2 linked regions of the Homo sapiens genome follow. The protein of the gene in region 2 interacts with the protein of the main gene of each other region in a pairwise test. Each region holds a gene or a part of one and is shown on either strand. Other genes may lie near its edges.

The links. The genes of interacting proteins can lie anywhere in the genome.
Region 1: the proteins of ERCC3 (region 2) and MSANTD2 interact in a two-hybrid assay, tested with the Homo sapiens proteins (one large-scale study listed by BioGRID and IntAct).

The regions. Positions count from the first base shown.
Region 1 is NC_000011.10:124,765,998-124,769,406, reverse strand, and holds the end of MSANTD2 (myb/SANT-like DNA-binding domain-containing protein 2), read left to right. Parts: intron 1-1,378; coding exon 1,379-2,231; 3' UTR 2,232-2,909; downstream 2,910-3,409.
Region 2 is NC_000002.12:127,280,415-127,284,329, reverse strand, and holds part of ERCC3 (general transcription and DNA repair factor IIH helicase/translocase subunit XPB), read left to right. Parts: intron 1-3,698; coding exon 3,699-3,883; intron 3,884-3,915. UniProt on the Homo sapiens protein: ATP-dependent 3'-5' DNA helicase/translocase. Binds dsDNA rather than ssDNA, unzipping it in a translocase rather than classical helicase activity. Component of the general transcription and DNA repair factor IIH (TFIIH) core complex.

The DNA.
Region 1 (3,409 bases), on a different chromosome or scaffold from region 2:
AGAAGAGGAATAATTCCCTGAGAAGGTAGTGATTTCATCTAGATAGCCACTCTCATACTTGAAAGCTTTCAAGACAAACTAAAGGATAGAGGGTAAATTCAGGGCAGTCTTAGCTCCAAGAAGCAGCTGATAACAAAATATTAATTCTCTGCCATCTTGCAAAGAAAGTCAAGGAGAGCGAGAGGACAGACTGAGAATGGCCACGTGAAGCCTCGCCAGAATGTTCCCAAAGCTCCTCCCCTAGAAGGTATGAGAACGTAGCAGGAAAAGTCTCAAGGATCAAGCTCCTTCCAGAGCCCGTTTTCAAGAAGCTGTTAGCACGCACACCCCCTTTCTTGCCTGTGTATGATTGTATGTAAGTGTGGTAGTTGAGTGTTTTTATAGGTTAAACCCGTAATTGATGTGGAGGGTAGTAGTTTGTTGCCAAGTTAATATTTAACGAACCAATCTTCCAGTATCAAAGTTTTGCTGTACTTGAGAAGCAAACTTTATATAGCTTCATATATATACAAATTACATGATTTAAGCAGCCCGTGAAATAAAAATTCCAGCATTTTCTGTCTTCTTCTGTTAAGTATATGAGTCAAAATTGAAATAATTCCTATATTTTTGCTTCCCTTTATAAAGGGTTTTCTAGAACAGTCTCAATTTATTATCTTGAATGTTGCTCTCTTGAAATCTAAGCCTAATGTGAGCCTTTTCCATCTGAATTCCCAGATCTTAATTCTGTGCTAACCTGACTTCTATTAATTTTGGGATTAGTAATGAATTTCAGACAAATAGAAAATGTCATTTTAAAAAGGTCATTAGCCATAATCAGTTGTATATTTTCCCACAGCACACACAAAGCCCATTATTGGACTTTCTGAATTTCCAGGTTAGAAATTAAGCTGTTAATTATTTTAAGTGACGCCAGATACTTTTCTAAATACAGCATTTTTCACCTTATTTTGGTAGGTAGGTAGGTCTGAAGGCCATCATAGACATAATAGCCACTTTAAAATATTATGATCCATAGATTTCTGAAATCCTAGAGTCTAAGGTATTGATTCTGATTATACAGTGAGGCTGTAGAAGTCATGGAAAGCAGTTTATCATTAATTCTTAGAAACTTGCTAGGGGTGTGTTTCTTTTCATTTTAATAGGTTGATTGTCTAGACTTACACTGCCCAGTACAGTAGCTGCTAGTCACATGTGGCTATTTAAATGTAATTTTAAACTAAATATAATTAAAAATGTAATACCTCAGCCACATTTCATGTTCTAGTGGCCACCATATTGGGCAGCAGATACAGAACATTTCCATCATCACAGAAAGTTCTATCTGACACCGCTGTTCTAGATACTTAGGGAATTTGACTTTTATTTGTCTTTCCAGGAAGAGAGACATCATGCAGAATATTGTACAGATTTTGGAATCGGTACAGTTGAAATGGGAACTTTTTCAGAGCTGGACAGACTTTTCAAGGCTCCATCTTTCTAATAAACTGGCCATTTTTGGAATTGGTTATAACACCCGTTGGAAAGAGGATATCCGTTACCATTATGCTGAGATCAGCTCCCAGGTGCCCCTTGGCAAGCGACTTCGGGAGTACTTCAACTCTGAGAAGCCTGAAGGACGGATCATTATGACCCGAGTGCAGAAAATGAACTGGAAAAATGTTTACTACAAATTTTTAGAGATCACTATTAGCGAAGCTAGGTGCTTGGAGCTGCACATGGAAATTGACTGGATACCCATTGCCCACTCCAAACCAACTGGTGGGAATGTTGTTCAATATTTATTGCCTGGGGGTATTCCTAAAAGCCCAGGCCTTTATGCCATTGGCTATGAAGAATGTATTGAGAGGCCCCTCTCACCACACATGGAGCAAAGTTCCCTGGACCCAGGAAAAGAGGGCCGGGTTGACCTGGAAACCCTTTCAGCACAAGCCTCATTACAGGTGGAAATAGAACCCACCCGAATTATCTATTGCTACCTCGGGATTGCTGAGGTCAGGACTCTACAGCAGTGCTTATTTTTACATTTCCAAGCGAATACCAAAACCTTCAGCAAAGATTGGGTTGGTATTAACGGGTTTTTGTCTCAGAACTGTATTGTGGATCCCGGAGTTTCCCCCAAATCCATCTACATCAAATTTGTAGAAGTAGAGAGGGATTTTCTTTCCGCAGGCTCTTTAGTTGAGTGCCTGGAAAAAGCCATTGGATACCCCTTAAAATTTAACAACTGAATGTCATCCTTCATAAGGATTTGGGCTCTTAGCTCCTTCTTCTCTACTCACTTCCCATTACCCGGACCACCCCTCATCCAGATGCCGCCGTCAGACTCTTCATGGAAACCCTTTCTTCAATTGGGCCAGTACGACTTCTAAGGAATCATAGTAGACTTGGGCCAGAAAAAACAGACCTCACCTGAAAATGCTCATTTTGAGCAAGCAAGATATATAGCGAACTTGCATGGTGGGTCAGCTATTTCTTTTTTAAAAACAGAAAAACAATTTTTAAATGGATTTTAGAGCCCTAATATAAACAAATGTAGGTACATTCCATATTGGACAAAACTTATACTTTGAGTTTCATATGAAATTGAAAAATTGTATTTTTTTCACAATGTTTCATTTTTACACATCTCTATGTCTCTATATAAGTAATATTTACAACCCTGAATAAATAAGCAATAGATAATGGCAAGTTAAATCTTGATTCACAGTTAAAAAGACTTTTTCAATATCACCCTTAGCTACTATTGTATATAATTTAGATTTTCATTTTTTTCACCAGCCAAGTGTTTTGCTATTTCCAATCAGTATTGCTTGCAAAGACCTTTGTTTCTGTGATGTACCAACTTTACAGTTGTGTTGCCATTTAAACCTTTTTTTAAAAAAAAAAAATTAAAGTAATTCCTGGCCCCTTGGCGTACTAGTTGAGCTTTTTGTAGCAGAGTGTGGCTGCACTGGCAGTGGGGGCTGCGCTCTGACTTGACTGCTAAGAATGAAGAGAACAAACAGAGCAGGGTATCTTCACATCCTTTCATTCTCTATACCTCACTGACCAATGTCATTATTTACTGTCAGAGTACCAAAGGTCACTGAACATCTCATTTTGTAATTCTTTGAAAAATGACTAAAAATGACTAGGATAATCCTTTTGACCCTAAGTACATCAATTTGTAAGAGACTCATTCCTCATCTTTTACACTCAGTACTCAGGGGCAGCTCTCAAGGAGTACAACTGGAAAACTGATGTAATCTTGCTATCTCTCAAAAGGAAGGAAGATCCAGTAGAAATTTTTTTTTTTTTTTTTTTTTTAAGACAGGGTCTTGCTCTGTCACCCAGGCTGGAGTGCAGTAGTACAATCATAGCTCACTGCAGTCTCGAACTCCTGGGCTCAAGTAATCCTCCTGCCTCA
Region 2 (3,915 bases):
CCTTGTAGGCCACGACAAGAACTTTGGCTTGTACTCTTAGTGTGAAGCCATCTGAGGGATTTGAGCAGAGCATGACATGAGTTGACTTTACACTGTAAAAATACTGCCCTGGCTGCTGTGCTGGAAATAGACTGAAGGAAGCAAGACAGAAGCGGTGAGGTGAGTTTGTGGAATCCCAGTAAGGATGAAGGCGTGATCCGACTCTGGATATGTTGTGAAGCTTTAATTGACAGGTCAGGTGTGGAATCAGAGAGAAATCAAGAATGACACTAAGGTTTTTGGCTTGAACAAAGGGAGGATACAGTGGGCATTAATTGAGATGGGGAACACTCTCAAAGGAGCTGGTCTGGAAGGTGACTATCAGGAGTTGGGCTTTAGATGTGTGAATTTGAGTTTCCTGTTAGGCATTCAGGCCATGGCAAAAAGGTTAAGAAATAGGCCAAAGAAATTGATAGACATTTCACCAAAAAAGGATATACATATGTCAAAAAAGCACTTGAAAAAGGGTTCAACCTCATTAGTCATCAGGGAACTGCAGATTTAAACCCACCACAGGATGCTCCCATATGCCAGTTAGAAGGGCCAAAATAAAAAATACTGATGTGCGGGTGCTGATGAGGTCACAGCAACTGAACTGTCACACATTCCTGGAGGGATGGATTGCAAAGTGTATGGTCACTGTGGAAAACAGTTTGTCCATTTATTATGAAATTACCACATGACCCATCAGTCCCATTCCTGTGTATCCTGGATACATGAAAAGAGGTTTACACAAAATCCTGTACACGAATGTTTATGGCAGCTCTGTTCATAATATCCAAAACCCAGGTGCTCATCAGTGGGTGTCTGGATAAACAAGCTGTGGTACATCCATACACTGGAACACTACTCAGTAGTGAAAAAGAACAAACTTGCTGCATGTTGCAACCTGGATGAATCTCAAAAGCATGGTGCTGAGTGAAAGAAGTCAGCCTCAAAAGCTTCCATAGTATGTGATTTCATTTATACAACGACAGTATAGTGCTGGCCAGCAGATCAGTGGTTGCCAGAAGTGGGGGGTCAGAGATGGATGACTCTAAAGGAGAGCACAGGGGAATTTTGGGGGATGCTGTCTTTATCTGTACCCTGATTGTGGTGCTGGTTACAAAAATGTAAATATGTTAAAATGCATAGAAGTGCCCCCCCCACCCCCCGCCCCAAGTCAGTTTTACTGTGAGAATTTAAAAACTCAAAAGAAAAAAGGTGGAAGGGTGGGTATTGGGTCTGCTAGGATTGAAAATTGATGGTACAGAGAATCACTACCCACAAAGGAGTCTGGAATTGTTCTGTAGCAGTTTGGTTGGAAGCTGTGTTCAGGGCTTGAGGCATTCTGTCTGACTATATGTTTGGTACACGTTCATGTTTTTCTTTAACCCAAGCCCCAGGTCCCAGGTTCCAGGGGACAACAGCACAGATTTGGGATTGGTTATCTGATGAACAAGTACAAAAAGGTGCATCTCACACTCACATATGTCTGTGAGTTTGTCTGTCTCTCGTCTAGTTCACTGGATGAGTTAGTCTTTGGTTGAGTTGCGGAGTGAAACCAACAAACTCTAAGGGATTTTTGAGTACAGGCCCCATAAGCCCAGTGGCCTGGCCATGCTCATTGTCCCAGAGAGCAAATGTTAAATAAGGGAATGCTAGGAAGTCACAGTAAGTCTCCTGACTGTCTTAACGTCTGCTGTGTTGGGTTAGGTGGAGTGATCAATCTTTGAGATTTATCTCAAAGGATAAAGATTGCTGTGCTGTTTTACAGATTTTTCAAAAGGAGCTCTGTTATGCCTTTTTATTAATGATTCATATTATGGTACTTGTGTATATTAAGTGCTTCCTGTGTGCTAGGTACTGTGCCAGTTTCATTATTTCTACAGGTATTTATTGAGAACCTACTAAGTTTAGGCACTGTACTTGGCACTGGAGACAAAGTGGAAGGGACAGCCAAGTAACCACACAAATAAATGCCAAATGACAACCATGACATAATGTTGAGTGATACAAGCCACACACAAAAGTGCATACTATGATTTCATTCATGCAAAGTTCAGAAAGGAGGCAGACCCCTCTCAGAAGTCAGAGGAGTGTTTCCCTCAAGGAAGAGTGCTAGTTATTGACAGAAGGGGTCAGGGGAGAGACCTCTGGGTGCCTGGTTCTCTATATCCTGATCTAGGTGGTTCCACAGCTGCATGTCTGTAAAAATATATTGAGTAGTATGCTGTGAGTTATTCACCTGTGACAGCTGTCAGGGCTGTAGGAGAGTGTAATAGAGGGGTGTGATGGGGTCACGGGTGTCCAGGCAGAGTCCTACCTGCCTTATCCTTGTCTTGGGTCAGTATGTCCCCCAGTGTTGCCTCTCTGGGGCCCACACTGGGTTGGTGTAGCCATTGCCTTGACTACCATTTCCCTCTAACATGGGGAGCTTGGTCTGAGGTTCTTGGCTACTGTATTTTGGAGCCAGCACAGTCTTTCCTTAGACATAACCCTGAGCTGATTTTGTTTTCTGTGTTGTGTGTGTGTGTGTGTGTTTGTGTGTGTGTGTTTGCATGTGGTGTTGTGTGCAAACCATGTAGATGTAAAAACTAAACATTTACTTAGAGTTAGGCAACCCTATGTTATTTCACTGTGAACGTCTTTGTGTTTTGGTGCATTCAGGCCTCTTTTTCCTTAGATTTTTGTGTCTATTTATTTCTGAAATATCATTAGCCCTACTTTCAATTATATTGTAAGATAAGCATGACTCAAACATTTTAACCTTGCTTCAGAGTATTAGAATTTTTAAAAGGTGAGCCCGTGGAAATCCATAAATTAGGTTTTTTAAAAATGAATAACTCATACCCTTTATGTGTTTATTTTATTTGATAAACCAGAGAGAATTATAATGTTCAAAAGAAAGGAAGAAAAAGAGGTTGCTGGTTGACCAAAGTGATTGAATTGGTAAAGTTTGGAGAGGGGAGTTTCCTAAGGCGGGCCGGAGGGCTTGGGCGAACAGTTCCTGGAGTTTCATCACTCCCGTGGGCTTGGCTTTCTTCTCGGTTTCTGGGAAAATGATGGGAAGCTGAGAAGAGCTGGCTTCTTTCATTTCTTCCTCTCCCTAGATTGTCAACTTTCTTTTCAGTAACCTGGGTACAAGTGTTAGGGGAAAATTCTTTGCGTAATTTAGAGCTTAATGGTATTAATAGTAAGTATTGCAGGTTGTATTTCAAATTGCCATCTGTACTTCTACTGATAACTGTTGTGAGGGGAATGCTGGGATTCATTAACTTGGAGATTCCTTAAGCTCATTTCACCCTCTTGTTCTCCTTTTCATTTTCTTTTGGACAGGTCTAAAAGTGATGGTGAAGCATTTGCCTAGTCATTCTTGTCTAGAGCCAGCTTCTGTGGTCCTGAAACCCAAGGGTTAGTTCAGGTGGTGTCATAAGCCAGTGTTAAGTTGCACAGCTATGAGCATTTGAAAAAGTGACAGTGTAGGCTGGGTGCAGTGGGTCACGTCTGTAATCCCAGCACTTTGGGAGGCGAAGGCAGGGGGATTGCTTGAGGCCAGGAGTTCAAGACCAGCCTGGGCAATATAATGAGACCCCATCTCTACAAAAAATATTTTAAAATAAATAAATAAAAAATAAGAAAGAAAAGTGACAGTGTGAATGCTCCCATTGTTTCCTCAGCCAAGATGTTCCGAAGGGTGCTCACCATCGTGCAGGCCCACTGTAAGCTGGGTTTGACTGCGACCCTCGTCCGCGAAGATGACAAAATTGTGGATTTAAATTTTCTGATTGGGCCTAAGCTCTACGAAGCCAACTGGATGGAGCTGCAGAATAATGGCTACATCGCCAAAGTCCAGTGTGCTGAGGTAGCTGGGCCTGGGCTGGGGGCGTCTGGGAA